Homo sapiens: one gene and its partner. The protein of the gene in region 2 purifies or fractionates together with the protein of the main gene of each other region. This does not show direct contact. Each region holds a gene or a part of one and is shown on either strand. Other genes may lie near its edges. The genes, in order: HNRNPD and FNDC3A.

Region 1 (11,086 bases), on a different chromosome or scaffold from region 2:
CCAATTATTAGTAACGTAAAGGAATCACGGTACGTTTTAGGATCTTTAAACAACAAAAGCAAAGCAAAAACAATGTTTTCCTTAAGATATGCAAGTTACCTGCTTCTTCGACCAAAAACAAAAAAATTCCAGGAGAAAAGCAGGCAAACAAAAATCTTACTTGGAAAGCCAAATCTTAAAAAGAAGCCCTATCGGCCCAGCGGCGATAGACGAAAACCTCAATGTCACCCGGTCCCGGGCGGCGACGGCAGGGAGAGTAGCTGCGGCAATCAGTGCGCGCGCGGTCCGCTGCGGCGCCTGGCGCTCCGCGGGCGTCCGGGTGGACAGCGCCAGGGGCACAGGGCTGACATCTCAGGGCTAATTCCCTCCTCCAGTGCGTAAATCCAGGCTTAAGCCGCCGCAGGGTGTGAGCCTCCCCTCCCCCACCCGAACGCCGCAGCTGCACGGGGCACGACAGCCTTCGCAGAGGTGCAGCCACACCCCGGCCTAACGCTGCTGCTCCCGCCGCTACTGGAGTGGTGGGGAGGGGTGAGTGGACTCCAGGAATCCTCGGAAGGGCGGGGGCGGAGGCAGGGGGCCCCTCTAGCCGCTACTTCGAAACAGCACTCCTTGTTCTCGATGGTCCCCGCGCGACTGTCTTAGCTCACGACACTTCCGGTTCCTTTTAAAGGCCCCCAAGGCTGTGCAACGCGGAGCGTGAGAGGAAGGTATAAAGGGTAGCGAGAGGGCGGGACCGAGGAGGAAAGGGAAAAAAAAAAAACTAGGGGGATAGGGGTGGGGGGACGCGCGAAGGGCGCGCTCTCGCGTCACGTGACCGGGACGCGCCGTTCTTCCGTCGGCCATTTTAGGTGGTCCGCGGCGGCGCCATTAAAGCGAGGAGGAGGCGAGAGCGGCCGCCGCTGGTGCTTATTCTTTTTTAGTGCAGCGGGAGAGAGCGGGAGTGTGCGCCGCGCGAGAGTGGGAGGCGAAGGGGGCAGGCCAGGGAGAGGCGCAGGAGCCTTTGCAGCCACGCGCGCGCCTTCCCTGTCTTGTGTGCTTCGCGAGGTAGAGCGGGCGCGCGGCAGCGGCGGGGATTACTTTGCTGCTAGTTTCGGTTCGCGGCAGCGGCGGGTGTAGTCTCGGCGGCAGCGGCGGAGACACTAGCACTATGTCGGAGGAGCAGTTCGGCGGGGACGGGGCGGCGGCAGCGGCAACGGCGGCGGTAGGCGGCTCGGCGGGCGAGCAGGAGGGAGCCATGGTGGCGGCGACACAGGGGGCAGCGGCGGCGGCGGGAAGCGGAGCCGGGACCGGGGGCGGAACCGCGTCTGGAGGCACCGAAGGGGGCAGCGCCGAGTCGGAGGGGGCGAAGATTGACGCCAGTAAGAACGAGGAGGATGAAGGGTGAGTAAGGGGCATCCCAGGATAGTCAGGCCCAACTAGTCCCCCTCCCCCTCTTTATTCCCCCGCCATTAGGCCTGGTTCCCGCTCTCAGCCCGTTCTCCGGGCCCCCATGCAGCCTCCTTGCACTGGTCTCCCTTTTTCTATGTTGGGTTCCCCGGACCTTCATTTCCTTCTTCCTTTGCCTGCTTATCGCCCCCCTCCCCCATCACACACGTTTCCACCTTTAGCCGTCACCATGCTGCTCCTCGGCCCGCCCTCCTTTCCTCCCTCGCCATGGGTCTCCTCCCACCGACTTAGCCGCCAGGATTTTTTCCCGCCTGTCGTGGGGTACCTTTTTTCTTTCCATGCTGTCCCCTCTTTTTCCCTTTTTCTACAGTCTTGGGCATAAAAACACAGACACAAACAGCTTCTCTGTTTGTATTACTAAGGTTTATTTGGTGCTTCTCCACCATCCTGAAACGATGCGATTGTTTATAAGCACATGTTTTGGGGAACGCGTAGGCTGTCCACCTCTGCCTCTCCCTTGTCGGCCTTAGGCCGACTGTTTTCTTGGGATTTTGAATAAGTTTCGCCTAAGGATTTACTCATTTTCTCCACCATACGCTATCGCACAATGGCATACTCATACAGGCCCTACATTTTGACATGCAGACCAAATTGGGTCTGGTGAAATGCTCCGAGTTTCTTGTTGGTACATTGGTTTTGCTCCGCGGGCTCTGGTTAAGTTCTTAGTCGATCGGGCCTGCACTTGACTGGAGCTGTTCCTATCTCCGGCCTAGCATCTACCCTTCCCCCACCCCACTGAGTTATTCTAACCGCGCACCCTTTTCGCGCCCTCAGCTATTGGGTTCCCCAACTGTTAGTACAGATTGTACCTTACTTTTTATGTGCAACCTAATTTTTTACAACCCCCAGCCCCCTTTTTTTCCCGGTGCCCAGGATCCTATTTTGGTGTCTTGATATCTGTTTCCCGCCCACTAAGGGAGGCCTGTAGTCCTCTTAAGAGAAACAAATCCTGTATTGTGCTATGGGATACTTTTTTTTTCTTTTTGGTGCAAATTTCTTAGTATTAACTTGCTTCCTCCAATTGAAATAACAGTTGTATATACTACCTAAATCTGCATTTAGTGTATTAAAATGCAGCATTTGGGATTGGGAACATAATACGGGAGTTAGCAGGAGGGACTAAATCAGGTTTCTTGGTTGAGTTTTCTTAGCTCCGATTACTGACCGATGATCGTGGGTTCACGCTTCCATTCCTTTTTGTAATGGGGAGGGGTGTGTGTGTGTCTGAATTTTTTTTTAACTGTAAAGAGAAAGGTGTTGGTGGATATAACAAGATGTCGCTTTAATCTAGTATTAGAAAACACGATTTCCTTTACTGAGAAAGAGCCCAGGATTTGGAGGGAAAGTTGGGAGGGGAGAAGCACTTTGGAATATAGGGTTTATTAAGCCCAGCCTAGGCAGATTCTTGTCAGGCTGTTTGATGATAGTGCTGGTTTTGGGGGAGTGGTGGTGGGAAGGGAAGCAAACTTTTAAAAATTAAACAGAACCAACTCGAATTGTATATAGCTTATTTGAGAAAGGAAGATGTTAGATATTTGGAAACTTAAAACCTTTAACATTTTGGTTTTCGTTTGCTGAATTCTGTTCTTTGGACAGAGGCACCAAAATGATTAATTGTATAACTTCCTGTTTGGGGCAGGCTTTCTGTTAGCCCTGATAATTCAAATCGCAAAGCAGCTGACTTTATAGTTACCTACTGTTGAAGTGTAAATGAATTAAAGTTTTTAACCCTAACAGTGTCAAAAACTAAAACTAGAATTTTGATTGGTTGCTGTACCGGTTGTTAATTCCCTAGCCATTCAAACTCCTCCCCACGACACTCTGAAGCAGCGACGGCACAGCGGGAAGAATGGTAAAACTTTTAAATTTTATTTCTGTATTATAAAGGTTTCAGTAGTCATAATATGTAGAGGCTGTGTATTGGTTAGTTGCCCATTGATCCCCAGGAAATTCTAGACCATAGTACATACAGTAGGTTTGTACCTGGGATATATACCTTTTATAGGCATCATGTGTAATCTTTGGGCAAAATTGATGCCGTTACATGGTATTTGGTCTGTGGTAATGCATGTAGTTGCAGTTTGGCAATTTAAGCTAAACAATTAGTAACGATATTTTTATATCGAGCAAGAAAAAATATTACCGTAATCTTCACATTTGATTTATTTTAAGATGAAAAATATTTTTGTTGGAATTTAAGTTTAATGGCTAAATATGAAGACTCCTTGATATAAAATATTGTGTTTAAAATGTCATGCATGTTATACTGAAATATTCTGGAGATGTCTGAAGCAGTTCTTTAAGCAGCACTGTGTATTATGGAAAAATGTTTGTCTTTTACCTAGCATATTTGTAAATAGACCTTTAATAAGAAGTGTGTGTGTGTGTGTGTGTGTGTATATATATACCATTAAAAGGTGGGCTAATGTGGCTTTCCACTACAGCTCTTACCAGATTTTTTATTTTCAGTGTGATTTGGCTGGAATATTAATAACAGTTGGTTGACATGTATTCACAATTGCATGACTTCTCTTTGGAGGCTGGTAGGTTGAGTATTGTTCTTTTTATCCATCCTTTCCCCTCCCCTAAATGTCAGTCTTTCTGCTTTTAGGATTATATTTGAATTTTCAGGGGTTTATACACCACCACTGGAGAGTAGAAGGCCACTAACTTGCAGGCAGTTAACTTATATCTTTACAAGCTACATTCTATTTTAAGAGCCTATTTAGGGTAACATTTAAAGATTTGCTTATCACTGTATTCTCATCCACTGAAATCAGTCCAGCTTTACCTTGGAGAAAAAGCAGATGGGAAACAGGCAAGGGGAAAAGCAAAAAAGAGGAAAAAAAAAAGACTGGGGTCACAGTTTCGATGAATGTTATTCCCTGTATTTGGTGAGTGGTGGGCACTAGCAGCTCAATTTCACTGCTAGCTAATAGTGGCAAATTAAGATTAAACTATAAACTATTTGACATTACTCCATTATGTATTTTGAGTCTCATGTAATTGTTTCCAGTGATTTGAAATGACCATAAACTTAAATTTGAAGGTCAGTGTTTTGACTCTTCGAAGTAATTACACTTGACCTGCTACCTAAAACGATGTAATATTACAACTTTTTTGAATAATCTCAGGAAAAATGGAGAAATGTTTATATTCATAGTTAATAAACATTCTAGATAGTAACCAACTGTCATTTACTGAAAATAAAATTTTACCCAGGTTTATTTTATTTTTGAGACGGAGTTTAGCTTTTGTTGCCCAGGCTGGAGTGCAGTGGTGTGATCTTGGCTCAGCGCAACCTCCACCTCCCAGGTTCAAGCAATTCTCCTGCCTCAGCCTCCAAAGTAGTTGGGATTACAGGCATATTCCACCATGCCTGGCTAATTTTGTATTTTTAGTAGAGACAGGGTTTCTTCATGTTGGTCAGGCTGGTCTCGAACTCCCGACCTCAGGTGATCCGCCTGCCTCGGCCTCCCCAAGTGCTGTAATCACAGGCGTGAGCCACTGCGCCCGGCCTAGCCAGGTTGATTTTAAAATTACACTTAAAAATAATGTTCTCATTTTTAAGGGCTCTAATATTTGACTTTTCTTAACTTTCCAATTATGCAGCCCTATCCTGTTCCAGACGTTAAGGCTTTCTTTTTGAATGAAAAACTTTCAGACTTTTTTCTCTCTCTTTTTTTTTTTTTGGTGTCTGCACTCCCCACCGTATCTGTCCCTTCCTCTTTCTCCCATTTTGAGGGATATTATAAGGGCAACAGTTTTATAGTCTCAATATTGAGGGTAAGACTGGTTAATAGAGTATCCAAATTGAATTTATTAAACACAGTTCTGTGTGCATTTCCTTCTGCAAATCTGAGAATAAAGTGATTACAGTTTCATCCTAAAATACTTTAAAAATCAGTTGGTTTTAGAAATAGGTTTTTTTCCTTTTGCATGTAAGAATGGACAGCTATTTTTAGGAAGGCATGCCTGTTACACCTCTAGTGGATGTTTCTACAGTTTACTATGGGACTTTAGAATAAGTAATTATTTCCATAGTATGCCCTCCTGAGTTCACTTTGATTTACTCTTTCCCACATTAACATCCGTAGTTTTTACTTATAAGCATTGGAATTTCTCATTTTACTTTGTGGTGTGGACCCATTCTGTTCTCTGCAGTGCTGCAGTTCATTTGGGGTAGGTACTTTAAAATTATTTAGTGTCTGGCAAAATATACATGCCATGTAGCAAGCTCTCTGAGGGCAGAGTTTTTAAAGTTTAAAAATCAATGGAAACTACAATGTTGTGTTAACTTTGAGATAGTTTTACAAGGTAGGTACATAGACTTTCCTGCATTGGATTGGGTAGGAAGCAAAAAAGTCCCCCCATTCACTTAGCCAAAGTCCAGCAATGCTTCTTTAATAACAGGACAGTAGATATTGTCCTGTTAATGGTTAGTGTATAATGAGCCCAAGTGTGATTCTTCCCATTTGGGAATTCTGTGAATCCTGCTGTAGGTTGTTGCCTGTCTGATTATAAAAGACTAGGCTCATGTTTTTGCTTTAAATGTTTGAGATTATGGTCTTATACCTTAGTGCTTCTGGGGCAATCTGAACATTGTTTGCTTTGTAAAATAATTTCTTTTAGAGTAGTCTCATGCCAAATTTACTGGCCTTTGATTCAGTACAGTTGGGTTTACTGTATGTAGTAAAGTTGAGACCCTGCGTAGATTGGTCTCAGTGTTAGCATTCTTGGGAGCCTTTGACAAATTTCCCGAGTTAAAAATTCCAGAAATTGATGTCCCCAGATCTTTAGATGAACATTTAAGCGAAGAGTATTAAATACTTCTCACTGTAAATTTTCATCTATTATGAAAGATACTAAAAATAATCTCGTTTTTTAAGTTTGGAATTGGGAGAATGTCATTGAAGTTTTTCAGTGCTTGTTTTTGAGATACACATACTTTGCCTTAAATCTGGGGTTTTTTCCCTTAAGCCATGTGACCCTTTCTACAAACTCAGTGTATGTTTTTAATATTTCCTGGGTACTCTGCTATCGTCCTAATACATAATATTAGGGTAAGGCTGCCCTAATACGAGAACATTTTGAGTATACTATTGAGTATACATTTGAGTATACATATTGAGTATACTATTTATGCCAACGTGAAGGATGTGATTAGTTTTAGCCTTCAAGTCATAATACATACCATGCTTGAAAGCATTTAAAAAGGAATAGAGTAATTTTTTTTCCCATTCCACTTGGAAGCTGTGTACCTCAAGTGTGTGCACATTTACAAATGGGTGAAACATAACTTATGTTAGTCCAAGCTTGATTTGACTTCAGTTCTGCTTCAACGTTTTAGTAGATAGGGCACTGAACTGGATGCTGAAAGCGTGGGATCTCTTTCTGTTGCTTCACTTCCAACAGTGTGGTTTCAGGTAATACGACATGTTTGTTACTTGGTTTGCTGATCTATGTGTTGGAAACAATGCTCACCACAGGAGGATTGACTACATAGCCTGCTTTCATAGCTTGTGTGTATTTATCCAGTGCCCTAATAGTTGATACTGCCAGTGATTTACTCCTGTGGAGTAAAGGTAAGCATGTTTTAGTTTCTGGAGTATTATATTGTACGTTGGAGCTAGGTATTTAAGAATATTTGGGGGTGGGGAGGGAAGACTCCAATTTACTGGTGGTGCTTGGCCAGTAATCAAGGTGACAGTTTAAGTATTGGGTCTTGCACTGTAAACTCCTGCTTATCTAGACTTCAGACTACCACAGAGCCCACACAGCCAGGAAGTCTGTCTCCCCATTTAGTCTTATGAGCAAGATAGATGAAGCCATGAGAAAATATACTCAAAAAGCAACCAACAGACAATGTCATGGAATGAATCTCCTACAGATTTTTCCTTACACTTTTGAAAAGTAACATGATTTTAAAACGTTGGAAAATTCATCAAGGTACAAATCATTTTCTGACTTCAGCATTGATACCTAAATTGATTTCCAGTACACAGTTTTATAGAATTGTGAATATGTAGTAATCTCAGTTAACCAGAACCTTAACCTTCAGGTTAAGGAAAATACCTATTCCTTAACCTCTAGGTAAATGGGAGTTTACCTTACAAAGCTGATTGAGAGCTTATTTAAAACGTAAACATACAAGATGTCATTGCTTCCTTGTAGTGAAGTGAAAAGGAGGTATTGGATTAAGCATTTAAAGTTAATTAAAGTAGTGGCTCGTGCCTGTAATCACTGGCTACTCAGAAGTCTTGAGGTATGAGGATCATTTCATGCCAGGATTTCTAGACCAGCTAGGCAACATAATATGACCCCTGTTTCTTTAAAAAAAAAAAAAAAAAAAAGGCTAGTGTGTTGGGGGGTGTGTTTGTAGTTGTAGTTACATCTACTCAGGAGGCAGAGGCAGGAGAATGTGTTGAGCCCAGGAAGGAGCTCAGGGCTGCAGGAAGCTATGATGGAGCCACTGCATTTTGATAGTGAGACCTGGTCTCTTAAAGTGTTTTATTTTTAGGCCAGGCGTAGTGGCTCACACCTGTAATCTCAGCACTTTGGGAGGCCAAGATGGGTGGATCACCTAAGGTCAGGAATTGGAGACCAGCCTGGCCAACATGGCGAAACCCCAGCTCTACTAAAAATACAAAAATTAGCCAGGTGTGGTTACATGCGCCTGTAGTCACTCAGGAGGCTGAGGCGGGAGAATCACTTGAACCCTGGAGGCGGAGGTTGCAGTGAGACAAGGTTGCACCACTGCATTCCAGCTTGGGCAACAGAGCAAGACTCCGTCTCAAAAAAAGAAAAAAAAAGTTTATTTAAAAAACTGTCATGTTGGCCGGGCGCGGTGGCTTATGCCTGTCATCCCAGCACTTTGGGAGGCTGACGCAAGCGAATCACCTGAGGTCAGGAGTTCGAGACCAACCTGGCCAACATGTTGAAACCCTGTCTCTACTAAAAATACAGAAATTAGCCGGGCATGATGGTGGGCATCTGTAGTCCCATCTACTTGGGAGGCTGAGGCAGGAGAAGAGCTTGAACCCGGGAAGCAGAGGTTGCAGTGAGCCAAGATCGCGCCACCGCACTCCAGCCTGGGCGACAAAGCGAGACTCTGTCCCCCTCCCAAAAAAACTGTCATGTTTCATTTATTAGATGTTTATTTTTTCAACTTCGCTTTTTAGTAGTCATTTAGTTAGGTTCATTCTAAAGTGTGAAGTAATGAGATTTAATACAGAGAAGTCTCTGAAAATGTTTGGTCCATTGTATATTAGTCTTGAATAAATGGAATTCTTTTTCACACTTACCTTGAAAATGTCATCTGTAGAAAGCTGGGGGAGAGGAATACCTATTCTTTAATGATGGGGAAATAATACCAAAATTTATATTTTTATTGACTAAAGTGTTTTTTGGGGAAGATTTGTTATTGGCTAACCTTAATGTCTCATTAGTTTTAAATAGTTAAAAAAAGTGGGCTGGGTGCGGTGGCTCACGCTTGTAATATAGCACTTTGGGAGGCTGAGGTGGGCAGATTGAACCCAGGAGTTCCAGACCAGCCTGGGCAACATGATGAGATCCTGTCTCTACAAAAAAAAAAAAAAAAAAAAAAAATTAGCTGGGCCTCGTGGTGTGCACCCATAGTCTCAGCTACCCAGGAGCTTGAGATGGGAAGATTGCTTGAACTTGGGAGGCAGAGGTTGAAGTGAGCCAGGATCACACCATTGCACCACAGCCTGGCAATAGAGCGAGACTCTGTCTCAAAAAAGTGGTTTTCATGAATTTTATACCAGATCAGATCTAAAAAGGCTGGTTAGTATTTGAACTCGATGAAAGCTTGTCAAGCTCTCTCCCAAGGTAGTTTTCATACAACTTGTAAAATACCCTAACGTGTGATATTATCTAGTTGCATTGTAACCTCCTCCCTTCCCCTTAGGTAACTAGTGACTTAGCTTTAGTTTGTCATTTTAGGATTTTAGAAGAATAATTATGATGGATAAAATACTGGAAAAATTCAGTAAGGATTTAATGGTGTGCTTGAGTAACATTACTTTAAAAGATGACAGTGATTGGTCATTTATGTTTTATACCTGAAATGTATATCAGGTTGACATTCTGTTGTATTTTTTAAACTGTCAGAACTTGTTATAAAGCCATGTATGTAAGATCATAAGTTGTTAGGAAGTGTTTAAAAGTTAAAGGATTGGCTGGGTGTGGTGGCTCATGCCTGTAATCCTAGCACTTTGGGAGGCTGATCGCTATGTCCAGGAGTTCTGTGACTAGCCTGGGTAACAGAGCAAGATCTCGTCTCTAAAAAAGTAAAAATAATACGAAGTTATAGAACATAGAAAAAGAATACTATTCCAAAATTGGGAGTGAGTATAATGGCTAACTTTTTACCTTGAATAAGGTGTTTGACAATAAAGACTTATTAGGGGAGGTATCTTGGAATAAAATAGTTAATATTGACTGGGAATGTTAAAAACCTAGTGACCTAAATAGTCCAGAGAATAAGTTTATTGATGGGGAAAAGCCAGGATTATTAAATCGGAACATTTTCCACCAGCCAGGATTGCTCCATGTATATTTCCTTTTATGTTTTAAATTATTCTTTACTAAAATTACTGGCATAAATGTAGGGTAGACCAAGTCATCAAGGTGATTTTGGAAGCTACATTTAAAGGGTCTTAGTTGAAATACCACCTAATTTTTAGTTTATATATTTTTTTACATGGACTATTTAAAAATTTCTGGGTTATTTCAAGTTGGCAGCATTGAAAATATTAGAATATGTTTATATAAAACTCATTGTGGCCTTTTCCTTTTAATGTTGGAAAGTTTATAAAGCCTATGCAGTTTTAAAAAATTAAGCCATTGAGTAAATAAAAAGTTTGCTTTATTAAATTATGTTTAGATAGTGCTTATAGTGCTTTACCCCTTCAAAATAGTAACTTCTATCAATCATTTAGGATGTGTGTCAGACTATTCTGTGTCCTTTAAGTGTGTTAACTAGTTTTAACCCTCTGCAAATATCTGAGGTATGCTCTTTTTACAGATGGGAAAACAATCTTGGACTTTAATATTTTTTCTTAATGTTACACAATTAGTAAGAGGCAGGGGGCCAGGTGGAGTGGTTCATGTTTGGAATTCCAGCACTTTGGGAGGCTGAGGTGGGCAGCTTGAGCCCAGGAGTTGGAAGACTAGCCTGGGCGACATAGTAAAACCTGATCTCTGCAAAAATATTAGCCGGGTGTGTTGGTGGGTGCCTGTAGTCCGAGCTACTGGTGAGGCTGAGGTGGGAGGACCAACTGAGCCCAGGAGGTCAAGGCTGCAATGAGCTGTCATGGAGCCAGTGCACTCCAGCCTGGGAGACAGAGTGAGACCCTGTCTTAAAAAAAGGCAGCAGTAGGGTTTAAACCCCGGCATTTTGTCTTTATTGCCTCTAAACTTAACTTGCTTTAAAAGATGATAAAATGTCCCACAAAGGAGCCTAAATTCCTGAATGATACTGCATATCACTTGGATAGTTATCTATGCTGAGTTGTATAACTTTATGCTTGTCATTTAATTTTACAATTTGGTGGAAGCCAATGTGAAAGCAAGGAGACTTCTGTTGTGGAGTAGGTGTTTTAAACTGAATACCATA
Region 2 (11,086 bases):
TGAGGCCTGGAGCTACGAAGCCATTGTCAGGGACATGGACCCCTTTCTTCACTGCATGATCCCAAACTTCATCCAAAGACGACTTCTTGGAAGGGCTTCAGAAGGAACTTATGAACTTAGATTTCCATGACAAGTATAATGATTTATGTAAGTTCCAGCAGTCTGATGATTTAAAGAAGAGGGCCTCACATCTCTGCTTTAAGGAAAATTCTGTTTGAAGATTTCTGGTCCTGGCTTTCTGGCATTTCTAAAATTTACTGGAACCAACCATCGATGTGTCCTGTGCTAAATATGAATTCACTGATGCCCTGCTGTGCCATGATGATGAGCTAGAAGGGCGCTGGATCGCCTTTATCCTGTACCTGGTTCTTTCCTGGGACAGGAGCCTGGAGGGTATCCTGGACCTGTACAACATTGATGAACACTTTCAACCGAAGCAGATTGTCGTCTCTTACCCCTTTATGGAACAAACTGGTTTTCTTTGAAGTATCTGCAGTGTCCTTTCACCAGGTGTCCAAAGTCCTGTCTGAAGTCACATTTGTCTATAAGTGGCTGGTTTCATGGTCCTTCACTGACTAGGCCTCCCAACTACTTTGAACCCCCTCATATCTTGGAGCCCTCACACCCCACAAGAACATGAAATTGTTTGATTGGATCAACCTTACTTATCTGGACATGGATTACCAAATTCAAACTCAAGAAGAGTTTGAAGAAAGTTCTGAAATTCTCCTAAGAAATTTCTTAAGCCTGAGAAATTTGCAAAGGTCTGTGAGGCCTTGGAGAATGGAGATGTGGAAGAGAGCAGCTGAGGTCCCCCTAAGAAAAGGTTTTTTTTTTTTTATTATCATTTTTTAAATTTTAAATCTCGGCTCACTGCAACCACCGTTTCCTGGGTTCAAGCAATTCTCCCGTCTCAGCCTCCCGAGTAGCTAGGATTACAGGCACCTGGCATCATGCCTAGCTAATTTTTCTATTTTAGTAGAGACAGGGGTTTCACCATATTGACCAGGCTGGTCTTGAACTACTGACCTCAGGTGACCTGTCTACCTCGGCCTTCCAAAGTACTAAGATTATAGGCATGAGCCACCGTGCCTGGCCAACAAAAGATGATTCTATGAGAAAGCTGAGGAGAGTAAGCTTCCTGATATATTGAAGGAGTGCATGAAGTTATTTTGCTCTGAGGCACTATTCTTGCTGCTCTCCAACTTCACAGGCCTGAAGCTTCACTTCTTGGCCCCTTCGGAAGATGAGATGGATGACAAAAAAGAGGAAGCAGCAGCCTCTGCTGCTGATAGAACTGAGGAAGGGACTGGCCATAGCCCTCCTGAGCCAGAGAATAATCAGGCAGCCATCAGCATCAACGGCCAACAGAGCCATGAGCAGACAGACCGAGTCAGAGGAAAATGAAACAAAGAATGAATCAGGTGTTCCCACATGCCAAAGGGAACTGAGGCGTTGGAAGACTGGTCACCACACTTTTAATTCGTGACCATGGCAAGGCTGATTTTGCCCTAGACTTAATTCTCCACTGTGGCTGTGAAGGCTGGGGGCCAGAATATGGTGGTTTTCTTACATTGCCAAAGATGAAGACGAAGAGCTGCTAACAGTGAATCCAGAAAGCAATTCTTTGGCATTGGTCTACAGAGATAGAGACTCTGAAATTTGTCAAGCATATTAACCACTGAAGCCTGGAACAAAAGAAAACCTTCCCAAACACAACAGGTTTCTGGGACTTTTCATTTATCTATTATGAATGACAGCACTGGGCAAAGCTGAACAAAAACATGATCCTTCATCAGTACTGGGAAGTCTGGAACAGCTAAGCCTGGAGTGAAGGAGAGCTACGTGGTAGCTTGCCTGACAGTGTTCTTTAAACTGGTTGTCCTTTAATAGGACTCATGATTGTCCTCAACCTAGACCTTGAGCTTGAAGCTATGTACTTACCTCTTGAATAAAAAAAAAAAGTTGGCTTTATTTTAAACATTGAGTTCTCCTCTTTCCATATTGGCTTCTTCAGTGAATTTTTCAATGATTTTTTTATGGTGGTAAAATATTTATAACATAAAATTTACTAGCTTACCCATTAAAAAAAGAAAAAAAAAAAGGCACTGAGTGTCCATCCCCAGGAGGAAGTTCTTGGGATGGAAATTTTAATGGGGGATGAGTGAGAGAATGTTGGATTTTCTGGTGGAAGGCAGACCCAGCAGTGCCACTACCAGGAAGGTTCTGGGCCTCTGGTGGTGGGCGAAAGAAGGTACTAGAAAATAGGGATGTGGGAAAGGCAAGGAGAGGTTAGGGATTTTCTTCCCACTGGGAAGTTTACCTTAGACTCACTGTATTCTTTATATGTGGAAAGGAAGTAAGATATTTCATGAGTTGCACAAAATCAAGTCACTAGGATAAAACTTCTAATTTTATTCTTTACTGGGCTTTATATAATAAATATACATCCTCTCATGTTGAAGATTTATATACTGTTGGGAAAAATGTTTTAAGCTCATTGGAAGAGGGGAGACCATAACATTTCACTTTCTTAAACAGGTAGCAAATAATGAATATATATGAATACAATAAACGTATCTCAAAAAGAATGATACAACTTTTATTTTCCATGGATTTTACAGATACTTTTGCTACATAGTTTATGTATTTTTATGAGATTTTTTTCATTTGTATGAAGTTCATTCAGCCTTATACAATTTTAAGGTGATATGTTTGGTAGTGTATCTATAATCTTTAAAAAGTTTAGAGTTTTTGGAATGTACAGTATATGAGGTAAAATCAAGATTACATTAAAAATTGTTTTCTCCTCTGCACTAATTTTGCAGTGAGGCTCAAATGGCAAGTATACTATTAAATGACATTTACTATCAAAAATAGGAAGTTCATTTGAATTACTATGAAAAACATAAGCCACTGTAACTTGACACAGTGGCACATTTTACCATTTTAGACATTCAACTATATATAAATCTCTGGGCTATTACACTCAGACTCATTTGTACTGCCAAATGTGGCACTTTAAAGAAGTTTCTAGAAAACAATCGCAATCACTGTTGTTTCTGGGGAAGGTTATCACCCTATACATAAGAGATTAAATTTAAATAAAATGTAAACATACAGTATATTATAGTGACAGGTCATTCTTACCACTTAGAAAGGCCAAGTTTATCCATTTCTTTTTTGAACAAGGGTTAATGTTTTTCTACAGCACAGATCATTTGACATAAAACTGTTACAATACATGCCCATTCTATTATAAAAGAAATTCTTCAGAGATCTTCAAAGCACAAAAAATACGTTCTTTTTTCAAAGACTGACAGAAGTGCTTAATAATCACTAAAATGCCAACCTCAGCAACTAAAAATTAGTGATTCGCTATCCTAAAATTCAAATAATAAATTAAAAAAGCTAGTTACAGGTGTTTTACGGATAACAGATGTGCTAAAACAAGAATTGTAGATAGTTTCATTATAAACTGTATTATTACTTGCAGTCATCGACATCTAGGCAAGATGTACAATGTGATACTTGACAAAATTCAGTCTGATCATCCAATAACTCACAAATGCAAGCTCACAAAACATTAATGAATTATGCAATTGCAAAGTGCTCTAATGCAACATTAACCACATGCAATCAACAATTTGGAACAGTATCCAAACAGACATTATACGTTAAACGTTTAGTTTTCAAGAAAGAAAGCAGCTTGAAGTTTACTGGTGCAAATTAATTTTGTCTTCAGATTTGGTGCCCCAAACAAAAAGGTTAGGTTTGATTATGAATTCTGATGGTGGTGGCAGCAGTTATGGGAGAAGCAGCAGAAACTTATGGGAGTTCTTCAAAATTAGCCTATACCAGACAGAGTGAGTGTATGTATGTAATATATACTTCTACACTTGTTATGTGTATATGTGTACACTTGTTATATGCCATATATGTATGTGTATACCCTTATACACATACATATAGTTCAAAGGTTCACAAAACAGAAGCCAAATAGGTTTGAAATTCAATTTACTTTTATGATTACTTTCTAAAAAGTATTTAAAAGCACTCAATTCTTTTCCATGTTCTCAAGACCTGAAGAGGTACTTTTTGAGTAAACATCAAAATATTTTTAGGCCAAGTAAACTGTCTGTTCTTTAAGTACTTATCTGTGAATTCATGAATATATATTTATAATGAAGAACTCCACATTTATCAAAGAAGCTTTTCTTCATGCATACTCTTTCATCCAGTTTTTGTTTCTAAGCCCCTCCAGTTACTCATCATAATCCCACTTACCAAATAATTAAGACAAATGAGGAGGTAGAAATATAGCACTAGATTGCTTTCACAGCATCAGACTTTAACATTTTATATAGCATGTTAGTGTAAATTCTATTCATTCTGAATTTTTCACTTGGTAATAATCTTTAAAACAAACAGATCAGGTTATCACTGTTACACTCATGCCGATTCGTCAAAATATCCATTCTAAATTGTTGCCTCTTAGAAAGTTTTTCTATAAGAAGGCATTTGTTAAAAAAAGAGAGAGGGAAAGAAAAAAAGAAGACCCACCCTAACAAAAAAAACAAAATTGATATTTTTGTGGCTTGCATTCTAATAAAGTGCCAGCCTCTACCTAACAATATAAGCACTGAAAATGGCAAAAATGATGTGCTATAGTCTCAATGCCAGTGCTAAATGCCACTGTTTTTTATAAAAGCAATACAGAAATAATTTTAGTACATGACAAAATAAAATGTAATAGAGTTAAAAAATAAAGTTATATTTTCACTTGATTACAAAGTACTGAATGATAAAGGCAATCAAAATGGAAAAGAAAGCAAACAGCACAAGGATGACGGCAGCACACTGCTCGTCACTCAGTGCCCGTCGGGTCCTTGTGCTTTCCACAGTGTCTCTGTTGGTGCTGGCTGGTGGTTCAGTCCTCTGAGAGATGAAGAGCACTGTGGTGCTGTAGGGACCTACGAGGTCCTGGTGTCCCAGAGAGTCTTGGCACTGGCGAATGGCACATACACGGAAGCGATATTCACAGTTCAGCTGAAGGCTGGAATACCGGAAGGAAGAGTCGGGACCCTTGTAAATCTGTTAATAAAATATTAGAAGGAAGAATTACGTGTGAAGGCTGGACAGAAAATGTGTTAAAACTGGCTAGTGTTAGAATTGTTTTTCATGTGAAAGCCAGTGAATGCCATTGATTTTATCTTTTAAATGACATGTTAAAAATACCTGTCCATTAAAGTACTTATCTGTTTGTTGCATAGGGGCAAGAGAAATTTCAAAAGCGAGGATCTACCCTTATACGGTTCACAGATGAATTAAGGAGTGCAGATGTGCCCCAGGGCAGCTAGAGAACAAGCAAAATCGGTCCTCAAGCATTTTCTTGCTTTTCTCAAATGTAAGAAGTCATTTTTCAATGCAATCATTCCATCAAAGAAGGGATAGTGTCTACTTTTGCTTCCCCCATTATGTCTTTGTATAACTGATAAATTTCCATATAATTTCAAACATATCTGTACAATGAAATGGAAAATGAATAAGGGGAGCTTTCTATAGGTGCCTATGGCAAATCACTGTATAAACCAGAGAGGGGAGATCACTTAGAATCAGAAAATAGGACCTCCTCTGCCATGCCTCACAAGGGAAATAAAAAGAATGAAATTCCACGGATTTTCAGAGGAATGTGCTAGTAATTAACCCATTTATGCCAGAGGTTGCAAATTTTTTTTTTGTGAAAAATCAGACCTTGGCAATAACCTTGATCAGTGAGATATAAATAACTACCACAAGCTTAGTGTTCCAATAATGGAACACTAGGCATAAATAAGAAGCTATATACTAGAACTGTTCACCCCTGGCATCCAAGGTCTGCTCTACCACTTCACACTCCAGATGTGATTTTAGACCAACTACCTTAGTATAACAGACATACTAGTAGTTAACATGTATGATAATTATGAGGATGAAATGAACTAATGCTTGTTAAAGCACTTAGCGCAGTGCTCAGCATGCAGTCACTGCTCAATCTGTAGGAGCTATCATTTCCAATAATGAGCAACCTCCCACCACTCATTCTGTAATTGAGAAAACCAAGGTTCATAGGGTTAAATGACTTGTCAGTTGAGTTTCTCCAGTTAGTTGGTGGGCTACAAGTCAGAAGAACCAACACATGGGGGCTTTCAAGTACTTTTAGCTGCCTCAATTGTACCTGTGATGTAAATCTAAATTTTTACATATTGCTTTGCTCTCAAAGTAAAGTAAGATCTCTGTCTCATTTTTCTGTCTCCAGAATCTAGCATATAGTAGGTACTTAATAAAAGGACATTAAATTAGTGAATTATTGGCAATAAATAAAAATGTGGATGCTGATAACAATATATAAAGGAACTTACTGAAAGAAGCTTTAAGATAAATCTGAAAGAAAATGGTGACTATACATTAGTTCTAAGGATGCATAATGTTTCAGGGAATAGAATGTAGAAATGATCCATGTTTGGGAGATGGTACAGGTTGGGTATCCCTTATAAGAAATGCTTGGAACCAGAAGCATTTCAATTTTTTTGATTTTGGAATAGTTGCATATTTACTAGTTGAGCATTCCAAACCCAAAAATCTGAAATTGGAAATGCTCCAATGAGCATTTCCTTTGAGTGTCATATCGATCCTCAAAAAGTTTCAGATTTTGGGTGGAACATTTTGAATTTTGGACTTTATTTGGGATGCTTCAACCTGTAAAAGGATTCACTTAAAACAGAATGTTGTATGATAAAGTAGTGTAAAATTGTATACATAACACTGAAGTAAATTGAGTAAAAATTAAAAATATGTATTTGTCTTATGGATATAATAGATGATTTTTGTCTTTATACTTTCCATGTGTCTTCATATACCATTCCATGAGCCTGGCAGTATTAGGTTAAGAAAGAAAAACCTCAACAAATGGCATGAGGGTGATAAGAGATCTGGTACAAAGAGGAAGAATACATTAATTACACTAGTTGGAAATTTAGGTTAATTCAAAAGGGACCACTGTAGGTGTGTGACATTAAAACAGTGTTTATGGAATCCTAATCGTGAGGCTGTGTGAAGGACTGAAGGGAGCTGAGTAGGACAGGGACTCTTGATGTACATGTAAAAAGTGATGAGGCCCTGATGTAGTTTTATGGATTTAGAAACAAATTCTGATTAAGAGTTGATAGGAAAAAAAAATTCATCTAAGAATTTAAAGCTTGGAGACCAAGATGATATTGGTGTCTATGACACTGATGAAGTAAAGATGTTGGAGAGGAGATACTGGGAGGGAAGATGATGGGATCAAGTTTTCAATTTTGTATTTCAGATGTGGGAAGACCTCTAAGCAGGAAGAGACACAGGTAACTGTAAATACAGGACTGAAGAAAACAGATTAACCTGCTCAAGCTAATTTCAGAAGGTTTATACACCCAAGAAAAGTCATTCAAACAAGCCTTAAGGTTATTCATATACTACTCAAATGTGGAATCCCTATTTCCTTTAAACGTGTAATACAATTATATTTTCTTTAATATTAATTTTGCTTCCTCCTTAGAAGGAAACCTACTTATCTGTAAATTACATTTCAAATCTAATTATCCTGTCAATTTGCAGATGGCTTAATAAAGAAAAACAATTGCATGCCAGATTTAATCTGACTCTTTGGATCTTTTGTAATTTCAGTTAAGATATTACATAGAGTGGTTACAATAGCACAATACTGGAATAAAACAAATGAAGGATCTTTTTTTTAGTGGAAGAGGAAAATATAAGACACAATGAAAACAACCCAGCTTAAAAGCCCTCAAAATTAAGGTTACAGGAAAAAGGGAAAATCAGGTGAAATGTATAGGTATTTAATTAGTCTTTGGAGTGGTATAAAAGCTTATTCTTTTTAAAAGTTGTAACAAACATTGGCAACACTCCACTCTATCTCACTGCTATTCTTGCTTTATCAGAAAGCTATCTTTGAAACCTCTTGGCTAGGAAGGTGACAATTCCTCTAGGTTTCCATTATAACTTCATGCCTAATGTCATATTTACAGCACTGCATTATGACTATTATTAATACTATTATTGTAAAAGCCTCCTTATTAGTCTTTCTAGTTCTGCCCTTGTCCTACTGTAGTTTCAACACTATAGTCAAAACAACGTTGTGTCTGATCACGTGAATACCCTGGTCAAAATCCTCCACTGTCTTCTCATTTCACGTGGAGTAAAAGCCACAGTATGGCCTATTATGCCTTACGTCACTCCATACCACCTATAGGCCCCTTAGGATTAACTATCCGACCTTATCAACTCTTCCCTTTGCTCTCTCCATCCAGTCATATTGGCTCCTTTATGTTCATCAGATTTAATAGGCATGTTCCTGCCTCAGCGTATCTTCTTGGAACACTCTTCTCTCCATAGTCATCTCCTCTGGGCCATGCTGAAATGTCAGCTGAGTGCCCCAAATGAAATAACACTCAGTGCCCTCCCCCTCCACTCCCTATTTCTTTTATCCAATTTTGTTTTTTCTCCATTACACTTATATCTGACAATATATTGTCATGTTTACTTGCTTATAGTGTCTTCTTTTCCACCAGAATGTAAGTAAGCTCCATGGAGGCAAGGGACTTTTTGTTCAGTGCTATATCCTGAGTGCCTGGCACAGAATTCAATGAATACTTATCAGATAAATGAATAATCTGTTCAAGTGTAGTTCATACTGAAAAGATTTGGAATCTTGAGATCTCTGGAACATAATATATACTGAATAAATATTTATGAATTAAAAGGTAAAGATGGCCAAATCTTACACTGAAAATACATAAAAATTAAAAAAGGGTAAAAATATGCATCCACACATTAATATCTTGGTACATACCTGTTTGAATTCTGAATCTTTTCCCAACATAACTTGAAGACTGTAAATAACTGGATCACCTTTCATTGGCTGTAAACACTCCCATGTAATTTCACAAATGTGATCATTTACTTTCTCTATTTTGGGGGCTGTAGGAAACAAATATAAATAATATCTGTTCCACTTGATTTTTAATTTGGTACATCATGCAGACACTTGTCTTAATAAAAATCAACAAATATTTAAAATCCACTTATAAACTTGAAATAAGTATCAGTGAATTTTTGAAATTTGCATCCAAAGAGGTTAAAATCAGCACTCTTGTATTCTAAGATATGGGATCTCACTCTGTCACCCAGCCTGGACAACAGTGGTGCGATCATAGCTCAATGCAGCCTCAGCCTCCTGTGCAGCTACACACACAGGCATATGCTGCCATGCCCAGCTGATTCAAAATTTCTTTTGTAGAGAGGCAGGTCTCAGTATGTTGCCCACGTTGGTCTCAATACTCCTGGCCTTAAGTGAGCCTCCCACTTCAGTCTCCCAAAGCACTGGGCTTATAGGTGTGAGCCACTGTGCCCTGCTTATAGTCAGCACTCTTCTTAAAGCTAAGAGACACTAAACTTGATGAGCAAACAGAAAAATGACTCAGTGAAACTCAATATTATTAGAAAGACTAGTCAAGAAGAGTTCTGCTGTTTAACAAATGATAGGTTTAAGTACATGATCTAGGATATGGTTCTAGAAGTCTCTGTGATTAGTCTTCAGAGCAATTAACTTTATAGACTTTTCAGCTAAAAATAGAGTGTAGCCCTTGCCAGAGTCACTTTAAAATAAGAACCCCTCTAAAATTAAAAGATAAATGTATATACAAATGTGTGTAAATATGTGTACATGTGTGTGTAAAACTAATTGAAAAACCCACATTAATGAAGAATTTGTTTTGCTTAACAGATGACCAAGCTTTCCTTCTGAAATCCAAATGAATGTAATATCAATAACTCAAAACGTTTAAACAACCAGAGTTTGTGATTTTTTTCTTTAAGCAAATGACCTCATTAGAAAACCAGCCTTCCTATTCAATTTAGTATTTTTATGCTACATTATTAAAAACATCAGTGACAAAAGCCAGTACTTGTCTGAATATGAGCGTGCCAGATAAAACAGCTTTTATTATTGAGTGGAACTCTCAGTAGAGTTGGGCTTGCCTATACGATTTTGTATAACTGGTGGACATATACTGGATGCTAAATTTTAATATCAGTAAACAAAGCATTTATGAAAATACATTAAAAAGTAATTTATTATAAAGAAAATAAGTTCAGGATGTATAACTTACCTTTCAAGGCAGCTGGGACAGATTTTGGAGTAGTGAAAATATATTCTTGGGAGAGGGGACCTTCCCCAGCTTCATTACAAGCTTGAATACAGAATTTATAGGATGTTGACTCATTAAGTCTTTGTACTTTGTATGTATGACATGGTCCTCTGTATAGGGATACAAACCTAAAATGGAAATAACTATTAGATAAACCTTATACTACCTTATGATACCTTATTAAAGTGTTTTACAAACTAGTATAAAAACACAGTTATGAACATTATTTAGGAGTGATAAGTTACCCCAAAAGTTTGATGCCAGGAACTCTATGTCACTTAAAATAAATCTGTTTTTCATCAGATTAAGAAAAATAGGATATTTGGTAAATTTCCCAATTTGACATGATTTACCAAAAGTCTGTTACTAAATTTCATGTCCGACCATAACTGTTTCTTCTCAGGCTTCCGGTTTAGCTTTGTTTCTGAATACTGTTTTGTTAATGTACATTTTAAAAGATGCTCAGAACATCACAATTTTCATTACAAATTATTTCTAACTAAAGTCATATTGATAAAATTTGCCAAGTATGGCATAGAGACCTGAGCTATGAGATTAAGTTTCTATTTTAATCTTCCTTGTCTTTATCTGGAAAAAAGAGAATTCTCAATTCCCAGGCAGATTTTTAGTTGACTTGGTGACGTTTTTTTAGAGATTTACAAAAGCAGTATGATAATATAAAATTTCCAATACATTACCCACTTGAACTGTTCAATGAAGTTGAATATCATACATATTTCTCCTAATATGTTATCTATAAGTTGAATGCATCCCATTATTTTTGATTGGATGTTTCTAAAATTTTTGGAAATTAGAGAATGAATAATGAATGCTTATTC

What was found.
Region 1: the proteins of FNDC3A (region 2) and HNRNPD purify together in Homo sapiens (affinity purification with mass spectrometry; 2 studies listed by BioGRID and IntAct, with this or other methods). This does not show direct contact.

The regions. Positions count from the first base shown.
Region 1 is NC_000004.12:82,363,740-82,374,825, reverse strand, and holds the start of HNRNPD (heterogeneous nuclear ribonucleoprotein D0), read left to right. Parts: upstream 1-834; 5' UTR 835-1,147; coding exon 1,148-1,380; intron 1,381-3,241; coding exon 3,242-3,298; intron 3,299-11,086. UniProt on the Homo sapiens protein: Binds with high affinity to RNA molecules that contain AU-rich elements (AREs) found within the 3'-UTR of many proto-oncogenes and cytokine mRNAs.
Region 2 is NC_000013.11:49,201,089-49,212,174, reverse strand, and holds the end of FNDC3A (fibronectin type-III domain-containing protein 3A), read right to left. Parts: intron 11,043-11,086; coding exon of another isoform or gene 10,904-11,042; exon of another isoform or gene 10,382-10,903; intron 10,376-10,381; coding exon 10,209-10,375; intron 9,019-10,208; coding exon 8,891-9,018; intron 5,095-8,890; coding exon 4,780-5,094; 3' UTR 2,396-4,779; downstream 1-2,395. UniProt on the Homo sapiens protein: Mediates spermatid-Sertoli adhesion during spermatogenesis.